Regions from separate parts of the Homo sapiens genome. Here region 2 is linked to region 1. Evidence: fine-mapped expression QTL. A gene starts in region 1. The other region holds a variant in brackets. All regions are shown on one strand. Distances are between the middles of the regions.

Region 1 (5,371 bases):
GTGTTGACAATTATAATGCAGACTAATACGTGGGGTGATAGAGGGAGCCCAGGCAGCTAAGGACACATAGACAACTAATCTCAAGCTAACCCAGACATGTAGGAATCTTGGAGGAAGCGACATCTAGAGGAATACCAGGAAGATGAACAGAACTTCATCAGGTAAACTGGGAAAAAGTGTGGAATGTGGAGGGAGGGAATGGGGGGACAGAAACTGCCATTGAAGAAGCCTTGCATGTACGAATGTCGAGCACAACAGAGAACACAGCAAGTTTGAGGAACTAAAAGCTGTTCCTTTTAGCTGAAGCACAGCAAGCTTGTTCACATGGAGAGATAGCTGCCAGCTCTTAAAGACCCTCTCCGGCCACTGGAGAGTTTGGGCTTCATCGGGGGGCAGTGGGGAGCTAGGGAAGTGCCTTAAGCCTGGGAGGGACGTGCCCTTTAACTCATGTAATTTTCCACATTCAGAGGGAAGTTGGAGAGCATCCAACTTACTTCACTTAACAGGTGAGGAAACAGGGGTGAGGCTCCTTGCCTAAGATCATTCTTCTGTTAGTTGCAAAACTAGAACCAAAAGGCAAGCCTCTGGATTTCCAACACAGTGGCTTCAAAAGACCATACTGCTCTCCTTTATACACAAATAGAACTCAGAGGTCGGAGTTATTTTTGCCTAAGATCTAACCAAATATATATGTAATAGTCTTTTCTGTTTTTAGGCAACTTGTTCCTGAAGGTGAAAAGACAGGGAAGGAACAACAGGGAGAAATACGTCTTCCAAAAAACTATACCATCTGCAATAATATGCCCCTTAGAATGAAAATCTGATTTATTGGGATTCTCATTGTTAAGTATTTGTAATCACTGAACTTGAAATCCCAAGGATCACGGTGGAAAATGAAACATTTTTTAAAAAGGAAACCTCAGTTCTGTTTTTAAACCCATCCTCCACAAACACCCCCACAGCTTTTCACACTGAACCAGGGAAGAAATGTATGTGTGTGTATATATATATATATATAAGTCATTTTTTTCCGAAATAGCAATTTGAATTGGAATTAGCGATTTAAGATCAAACCACAAGGAATTATGGATTCTGAGCACGTGGGAAATAAGGTGAGATCAGTAAAGGAAAGCAAAGGCTTCCACAAGTCCTTTGCTGGAGCTTGAATAACGGGGCTCCTCCACAAATTGCCCTTATTAGGAACAGCTGAGTGATTAAGTATAAATTTGTGGGCCTTAGGAAACCACTCCTTATATCTACATACACTCCACAATGTCTCAAATGTTTTCAAATTATTTACCCTGTAAGGTATAAAGGGCAACTGTTATTCCCTGTGTTGCAGATACGGTGACCTCTGTGGAGCAGAGTGGTGAAGTGACCTGCTCAGGTGTCTCAAGGTTAGAATTTGGTGCAGCCTGACTTCAGCCTGGTCTGAAGGCCTACCAGGCTGGATTTCAATGAGAATTGTTTCTTTCTCTTTTTCTTTTCTCTCTTTCTTTCTCTTCTTTCTTTCCTTCTCTTCTTTCTCTCTCTTTCTTTTTCTTTCTTCCTTTCTCTCTCTCTCTCTCCCCCCGTCTCTCTCTTTCATTCTTTTTTTTTTTTTTTTGAGACAGAGTCTCACTCTGTCACCCAGTCTGGAGTGCGGCGGCAGGATCATAGCTCACTGTAGCCTCAATCTCCCAGGCTCAAGCAATCCTCCCACCTCAGCCTCCTGAGTAGCTGGGACAAAAGGTGGATGCCACCACACCCATCTATTTTTTTTTTTTTTTAATTTTTAGTAGAGATGAAGTTTCGTTGAGTTGCCCAGGATGGTCTCCAATTCCTGAGCTCAAGCAATCCTCTCTCCTCGGCCTCCCAAAGTTTTGGTATTACAGGTGTGAGCCACCGCTGGGCAGATAATTGCTTCTTTAAAGAGCCCGACACGGCAGATAAGCCTTGAAGAGAAAGGTACCTGTCCTCTCAGTGCTTCCTGCCACCTATTTGTCCGTTAGGCAATTCTTCCAGAATGAAGTTGAGGCAGGCCCCTGTAAAAGAGGTGGCAGCTTCAGGGACTCTTCTCCAGGGAACTGGAAGGGAGCGGAAGAACTTATTCTTAAGCGAAGGAGCCCTATCAGCGACCAAGCTCAATTGGTGGAAGGCCCCTTCCCCTAGCCCCAGTTGCATCTTCTGTCACTTCACCCTGCTCCTTCTCCTCAGAGCACTTTGGGCTGTAACTGGACGTTTGCTAGGTTAATTTACACCTGTTTCTCCTGGCAGGTGATAAAACTCCAAGGGGGCAGGACCCTGTCTTTTGTACACCAGTGCACACCCAAGTCCTGGCACGGTACTTGGAACAGGATAGGTAATCAATAAAGACTGGGTTGATAAAAGAGCACTTGGAAATCATGTGGGGCCAATAAGATCCGAACGCGGCCGAAGCTCTCGTCCTCGGGTTGCTGCAGGTGTGGTTCCCGGTGATGGAGGCCGTGGAAGAAGCCTTCCCTCCCTTTCCCGCCCCCAGGGCAGGAAGCCTGGGGGCTGAGCGGTCCTCCGAAACCGAGAGGCAGGTCCTGGGTGCGCCGGCGGTACAGCGGAGAGCGTGGAGAGACCCTCGCCGCAGCCATTTCCTGCCCTTTGTGTGACAGCCGCTGCGGCGAAGGGGCGGGCGCTGGGTGGGGGCGGAGCCGCGGCGGGCGGAGCAGCGGGGCCGGGGCGGGGCCGAGCGCGGCGCAGCGGAGCGGGGCAGAGCATCCTGCGCCCCGGCGCGGGGCCCTGCGGTAGCCTCAGGCCCCTCCCCTGGACCCGCCGCAGAGCCAGGTAAGCGGCCCTCGCAGGCCTCGGGCCGGGCACGGGGACTAGGATGCCGCCGGGGACGGGGATGAGGCCGTGAGGATGCGCGAAGGGCCGCCCCCTCTCCCGGCCCGCGGGGGGCGCTCGGCGCTGTGCCCGGGCTAGCCCGAGGCCCGGCCTCAGGCCCCACGCGGCCCCTTTCCCCCTCGGACCCACCGTGCGTCCCGCGGCACGGACCCTCTGCCCGGGAGGCGCGGGCACATCGCGGAGCTCCGGCGCGGCGGCGGGGGAGCCGCAGCAGCAGGTGCGCGGCCTGGGCCGGAGCCGCCAGCCCGGGAGGAGGCGGTGCTAATCTCAGGGACCGGAGACACCTGCAGCGGCCGCGAGCCCGGCAGCGGCGACATCCTCGAGTCCAGGTACTGCAGAGCGCTGGCCCCTGCCTCTGCCGCCGTGACCACCGTCACCTCCCCCAGGGCCAGCGAGAGCCGCCTGGGCCCGCCTGGCAGCCGCCTCGGGCACACAGAACGTGTGATGGGTGGGGCGAGGGGCGCAGCGTCGATGTTTGGGGGCGGAGGGCTTTGATGAGAGAGGAGCAGGTCTGACCCGCTTGGAAGCTTTCTGGCCTACACTAGCATCGCTCACCAAGCTGGCTGCGGGCACGGTGGAAGTGGGGGAAGGGGATGAGTGGGCTGACTCCTGGGGGAAAAGGTGGTTTTTTTCTTGAGCTCTGAAGAACCAGGAAGATGCTTGCCTGTCTGTTGTGGCGTCTACTTTTCAGGTCAGCCCTACCCCTCACCCCAAAGAACAGCCCACCTATGTGCAAAAGAAGAGGAGGAGGTGCTCTCTGCTTGGGGATGGGGGCAGGTAGCATGTTCCACATAAGTATGGCCCTCTATATCCAGAACCCGGCTGGAAAGGACACTGACAGCCCAGGTGCCTCCCCAGCACAGGGAATCTGATTTTGACCTTTGCTTGCCTACTTTCCCCAGCACAGTGGAAACACTCACCAGGGCTGATGAGCCATCAGCTGTCCTTCCAGCTAGGCCAAGAATGGGACAAGGATCTTTTTCTGCTAGTTCCTGGGTGCCTGTGCCCTCAGCATGGGCAGGGAGACGGAGGCAGGCCTGCTGGCAGGAGGGGCAAATCAGGAGACTGTCGGTTCCTGTGTTCCCATTTCCTGCCTCCTGTCTGTGTCCCAGTTAGGGCAGTGGGTCTCACCTTACTCTTGGATACAGGCTGTGCCAGCAACCTGGGTCCCTGAGATCTTAGAGGGCAAAAATCAGGTCCATATCTTTGGGCAGGCCTGTGAAGGCCTTGATGGTTGCTTTCTCCACCATTAGACCCTCTCTCTGTGGCCCTCCTGGTGGCCTCCCACCTCCACTTCCATACAGTGCCCTGCCCTTCCCCCAGTCTCCAGTGTCAGAAATGGTTTTCAAGAAAGGAGCCAATGATTGTGTTTATCTTGAAGAGCTAAATACAAAAGAAGTTCCCATTTGATGCAGAGCAGGTGCTTTACAAGTCATTTGACCGGAAAAGAAACAGAGGATGGAGGCATTTTAATGGGAAACAAAGCTTTAATGGGAAACACTGTAGAAATATTTGCTATCACTAATGGTAGAATTTCAAACAGTGGGCTGGAAGTGGAGGTGGGGAGCTGGGTAGTTCTTTTGGGAACGGGTCCCTGAAATGACAATATCTAGCAGCTGTCAGCTCTGTATTTGGCAAGGGCAGCTTTGGCCCTGCAGGCAGGAATGCTGTAAGAGTGTGTATGCATGCATGTGCATGCGTGCATGTTTGTTTGACTGGTCAGGTGTTACTGTCACCAGAAGGCATTTTTTGAGCACCCAGTGTCCACTTTCGGGATGAGAAACTTGTGTACACAGGGTTCCTCGTTGGCATTGGCTGCCCTTTGCCAAGGCAATTATTAGACCTCAAGAAGATAGTGTTGTTGCTTACAAAGTCAGTGCCTCTAGCTAGTTGTGCGCACTGAGCCTCTGGCTGGGGGCATTAGCTCTCTGCTCACTAAGCTTCTTTATTATATTTCCTGGCCAGTTCTGACCGGTTCTGTAGGCACCCAAGGCTGCCTTGTTCAGTCCCTGCTGGAAAATGAAAAAGGAAAAACTTGCTTTAGGCATTAGGCCAAGAGTCGGATGTACAACCCAGTGGGGTTGGAGAGTTTTACTCAAATCAGATGCTGGCCCAGAGAAGGAAGTAGACATGAATTCAAAAACCGGTAAAAGGCCCTGGTAGAACACTACATGACCCCTCTGATAAATCATGCCCTCTCTGATGTTCAGTGGCCTCTGCTGCTGTCATCAACCAGAAAGCTGAATGAGATGATGAATCGGCTACAAGCTAATTAACGGGAAAAGCGCTCCTGGAAAACAGTACGGGTCCCAGTCCCTACGTTTAAAGATTGGACTACACTCTCAACGCAGCTTCTTTGGACCACTGTTGGCCCCAGGGGTCCACCAAAAGCGTCACAAAATGGCCTTTTGTAGCCTCCATGTGGCCACCGTAACAATGAGTCTATTTCTTTACTGGCAAGTATTAATTATTCACTTGTAATTGACAAAGCCAGACATCAGTCACCTCACTGGAG
Region 2 (5,371 bases), 42 kb after region 1:
AGCCTCTAACTCCCAGGCTCAAGCGATCCTCCCACCTCAGCTTCCTGAGTAGCTGGGACTACAGGCACATGCCACCACACTCAGCTATTTTTTTAAAAAATTTTTTGTAGAGTCAAGGTCTTCCTATGTTGACCAGGCTGGTCTTGAACTCCTGGGCTCAAGCAATCTGCCCGCCTCGGCCTCCAAAAGTGCTGGGATTACGTGCATGAGGCACTGCGCCTGGCCTACTTTCAGCATTTTTATGTACGTCCTTCTAAGTTTTTTTTCTATGCTTATATATTTTCAAAATTTGCAATCTGCATGACCATGTATCCATTTTATCTCATGTGACTAAATTTATTTGGCTATGTTATGCTGCTGTGAAATAATGTGATTTCCATAAGCCTTCCTTAGCCATTATTCCATTGTTAGCTTAGGTTGTCTCTAACTTATGCCCCACAGCTGTAGCACTGACATGAACAGCCTTCTCCCATTCTTTATACACGCTGCAGAGCCCCTTTTGATTCTGTCCCAGATCCTCACCTCTCAATGTTCTGGTGGTTTTTCCTTTCTTCTCCTTCAGTGTCTCTCCTGCTATTCTGAGAATCCCAGCCCTGTGTTGGTGCTCCTGTTTTACATGTCTTAGCACCTCAGTTAAGTTTGCAGGGCTGAGTGGCTTTGAGACTTGTTCACTCTGGCTTCGTCCCAACATCAGAAATCCGGAGAAGCCACTCACAGTTCACATATCCCTCTCACCACTGGTGCTTTGCCTGGGTGATTGCTGTAACTTTCCACAAGCTAAGTCACTACCTACCAGCCCACCAAGTAGTCTTAATGCGGCCTTCAAATTCTCCAGCCCCCCATACCCGGACTTCCCTGCCTTCTTCCCTCTCTGTTCCCCACCCTCTTCAATCTGGCCTTCACATGGTTTTGCCACATGGTTAGTTTGTGTTAGTGAACTCAGATGCCACCGTGGAGCACTGTCTGCTCTTATGCAGAAAACGATGAAGTTCATTCTGCAGAACAAAATATACCCACAGAGTGGCTCACACCTGTAATCCTAGCGCTTTGGGAGGCCAAGGCAGGGGGATCACTTGAGCCCAAGAGTTTGAGACCAGCCTGGGCAACACAGTGGAACACCATCTTGACAGACAAATACAAAAATTAGCCGGGGGTGGTGGCGTGCACCTGTAGTCACAGCTTCTTGGGAGGCTGAGGTGAGAGAATCGCTTGAGCCCAGGAGGTTGAGGCTGCAGTGAGCTGTGATCATACCACTGCACTCCAGCCCGGGTGGGGTGGGGTAGGGAACAGAGTGAGGCCATCTTAAAAAAAAAAAAAAAACCGGAAATGCACCCACAGAGGAAGCAACCTTAGCAGTACCCTGCTCCACCCTGTTCGTGTCAGATGAGAAATAGAGGAATGGAGAGAAGTGACTTTCTCATGGTCACACAGCTGCTCAGGCCCCCTTCTGCATACATGTTAAAAGGAGCAAAACAAGCCAGCATTCAGGAGACTATTAGAAGGGTTGGAATCAAGAATGTCAACCTACTCAGAGGGCAAATTCAGGAAGAGATTTTTTTTAAAAAATTAAAGTCACCAGCGGCTCCTTGGAAACATTTACATTGTCCTTTCTGTGGAGAAAGAGGTGGATACTTTCACATTCACTAACTGTTCAAGTATTCATCAGATGCCTGTATTGTGCCCCACCCTGGGATACAGCAAGGAGCTAGGAGTAGCCCTTTCTCTCAGAAAGATCTAAATGCGGAAATATTGTCAACAGATCCTGTTCAGCTCCTGTCTCTGCTGCTTCGCTGTGTGGCCTTGGCGAGCTGTCTAACCTCCCTGTGTCTCTGATTCCTCATCTATAGAATAAGGTTATTGCAGAGAACTTGACTCAAGAGAAAATCATGCTTATTAAAGCTCTGAGCACAGACTCTGGCCCATAGTAAGGGCTGAAGAAGTAGCTGCTGTAGTAATACACTAAATTTCTGGTTGAAATTAGACTTACATTTCCTGCCTTTATTTGAAGATGCATAGATTTTCATAATATAATGTGTGTCTCTACAGGGTGTGTGTGTGTGTGTGTGTATGTGTGTGTGTGTGTGTGACACATATACAGACCTACCTTTTTGTTTTTAAACTTTTCCAGCAGATGTGATTAGTTTCTATGCTCTGCCCTCTTCTCATTCTAGGTGATGGGCTTTGGCCTCTACCTAATGGATGGAAATGTCAGTAACATTTACAAACTGGATGCCAAGAAGAGAATTAATCTTAGCAAAATTGATAAATTCTTTAAGGTCAGCAACTGGGGCTGGGGCTGGGCAGAGGGCTGAGGTTACCAGCGCCAAGATGTCTTTGGGGGAAAGGGATGAAATGAGCCAGAAAACTGTCAGGTTTTTTTAATTGAGCTGTAGCTCCAAAGATCCCAAGAGTAGGAAGAGGAGGAGAATAGAATGGCAGGGCCTCCAGCTGCCATTGATGGAGGCATTTATGCCCTAGAAGGCTGCTGCATGAAAGCCACACATCGTTCCAAGTTGCAGGATTCAGCTGGGATTTGGCTAGGAGGAGGCCCTGTGATTCTTTTCTGAATGCTG[CT/C]TTTTTTTTTTTTTCCTGAAGTCCCTTGTCACTTAAAGAGGTACATCCCAGAAGACAGCACCTGCTCTAATTTCCAGTATAAATCAGAGCTCGCAGAAGTAGAATGATTAAAGACTGGATTTTAAATTGGTTCACATTTGCAAAATCACAGCCTCTCACCTGGTACACCAGGGACCACCTCAGCTTGCCCTTACCTCTGGATAGAATGCCTCAGCAACGTTCATCATATACTCACTGTGTTTCAGTGCCTCTGAGAGTTGATCTTTTGGCCACAGATCTTTAAAAATTTGCAGTTAAACTAAGCCTCTTAGAATTTTGCAAAGGAATCTTACACTTTGGAATTAACTTCCCATGTTCTCAGTTTATTCTAGCATTGGGCACTGCCGACATGGAGCAAGCCTGAGAGGTCAGTCATGGGAAAGCCCAGATTAATATTCACAGCAGAACTCAGTGGTGTGACATGGAGGGCATTAGATCGAGCCTGAGTCCCACTGACTCTTCAAGGTTAAGGAAAAGGAACATAAGTCACTAAGAGGAATCCTGTGCCTTGGCTTTGCTTGTTTTCAAGGGTGGAACTTTTACTTTTCTCTAGAGTTGCCCCAGATGAAAATAGGGCTCATTTTGGGAGACCCTTGCAAAATCTTCCCTAAGTCAGCATGAATGAGATGAGGGTAGAAGAGAAATACAACCTCTCCCTTGGCAGGCCTGGGTGTAAGTCTGGCTCTGCCACTTAATAGCTGGATGACGTTGGGAAAGTCACTAAATCACTGAAACTGAGTTCCAAGTCTGAAAAATATGAATACCAAGGGTATCGGCTCTGTAGCGTTCCCTGGAGGATTCAGTGGGGTTACATAGATGACTCAGAGCCCTGGGTTGTATAATCCTGGCTTCTTGACTTCTAGCTGGTCTGACTTTATGAAAAATCACTTAAGCTGTTTAAGCTTCAGTTCTTCTTCTCTGAAATGGGAATGATAATAGTGCAGACTTCACAGGGCTATTGTGTGGCTTGAGATACTGTTTTTAAAGTGCTTGGCATAGTACCTAGTGCATGAGAAGCACATAATAAATACCAGCCTCCCCGCCATTTGCCCTGGTTTTTGGTCGGGAGTTGTTTGCCCTCTGGTGTTAGGTATTATTACGGTTTTAATTGCTTTGAAAGTACAGACTTTCTCAGGAAGACCAACAGCGCTCAGACACCTGCTTCTAGCCTAGAAATCATAACAGCAAGGATGCTTTAAGCCAGGGAAGATTCGAGTGGAAAGGACCCTGCACTGGGCAGCCATCCATCCAGTCCTTGGCCTTCACACATGCTGTTGGCTAAGTGACCTTGGACAAGTCACTTTGCCTCTCTGGGCTCCGTTGCCTAGAACATAGAGTTGGTTGGAGGCAGGGGAGGACCTATACGCTGGCTAGGGCTCCGTTTGGCTTCAGAGTCACATGGTAGCGTCATCGGAAGCAGAAACTAGGGGTCGGCCCCCAGGCACACACAGAGGCCTGCCTCCCACAGTGGGGTGGCAGCGAAGGCAGCCACCCCAACCCCTCCTCAGCATCTCACGAGCTGTGTTTGCTTCCTTTGCAGCAGCTGCAGGTGGTGCCCCTTTTCGGCGACATGCAGATAGAGCTGGCCAGATACATTAAGACCAGTGCTCACTATGAAGAGAACAAGTCCAAGTGAGTGCCTGCCGTAATGTCTCTCGGCTCCCGCAAGGATGCCCAGCCCGGGCAGAGAGCCGAGGGGCCACTTCAGCCCCTCCTCCCTCCCCAGATCCCTGGGCAGGTGGATTCCATCAGAACACAGGTGCCGGCCGGAGGGGAGCCGCGAGGGTGCTCTGAGCCCTTTTGTATCCGCCCTCTGCTGCCAGCTTCAAAAGGGCTCAGAGCACAGCCACGCCCCTTGTCCAGCCCAGCAGTGACTCGCATGTCCTCTCAGCAGGACAGCAGGAGTCCACCTCGTTCCCTGAAGAGTGGCCAGCCCTCAGTGGTCCAGTGAGGAGAGGTGGCGTTGTTCCTCCTCACACTGATCCTCTCAGGTTAGGTGACCGTGCGCTAAGTCCATCGTGCAGTCGACGTGAATTGGGTGGGCAGCCTCACCTTCGGCCGCTTTATAAACCACAATTCTGGGTCATCTATGCAAAGGCCTGGGGTGTCAGTGCTTCACTGAAGTTGGGGGGCTCCAACCTCTGCTGCTCTTTTGGTCTCTGAGGCTGTTAGGGAGGTTCCTTCTGTGTGCTTCTCGCCCGAAGTTATGGCCTCTCCACACAGAGGGGAACCAGCCGTCCTTTAGTCAAGGGCGAGTGTGTTGGCATCTTAAGAAGATATGAATGGAGTGTCCTTGAACTGCATCCGCCTGGAGCCTCTGCGAACAAGTGTCCAAAGGAAAGCTCATGTAGTCGCTTCATCACCCTCTGGCTGCTAGCGCGTGACGGGGTTTTGCAGGAAAAGCAGGGAATGGAGAATGCTGAACTCATTCCTCACTTTTCCCTGCCTGACTTCTCGACCAGCTGAAGCTGGCTGGGAGCGGAGGCTAGGGAAGTGACTGGGGTTGGGTGTGAGGGGCCGTGTGCTCCCCTCTCCACAGGTAACTCTTTGAGTGATATTGAAGGGAGGCCTGAGGAAGGCTGTCACTGTTCTACCATTCTTGTGAGAACCATATCAGGGCTTCTTTTGAAATAGTAAATTCTCCCCAGAATCTTTCTTCTGCCTTGTCTGGTGCTCATGCTTCATCTGTCTGCTGGGTCACCAGCACCTGAGGGTAGAAGAGGGTGAAGGGAGTGGTCCTTTTTCTCTTGGGGATGGA

What was found. PIP is the estimated chance that this variant, and not a neighbour inherited with it, causes the effect.
Region 2: its variant is fine-mapped to the expression of CYFIP2 in whole blood (INTERVAL, PIP 0.94).

The regions. Positions count from the first base shown.
Region 1 is chr5:157,263,400-157,268,770 of GRCh38, forward strand. It overlaps CYFIP2 (cytoplasmic FMR1 interacting protein 2), which reads left to right and starts at 2,724. Exons shown (of 31, transcript NM_001037333.3): 1 at 2,724-2,796. RefSeq lists a silencer at 2,631-3,150 and an enhancer at 3,831-3,940.
Region 2 is chr5:157,305,590-157,310,960 of GRCh38, forward strand. It overlaps CYFIP2 (cytoplasmic FMR1 interacting protein 2), which reads left to right. Exons shown (of 31, transcript NM_001037333.3): 9 at 2,172-2,276; 10 at 4,154-4,245. Among named protein-coding and RNA genes, the nearest start is that of FNDC9, 37 kb to the right of the region's middle. The variant CT/C (reference allele first, on the strand shown) is at 2,574.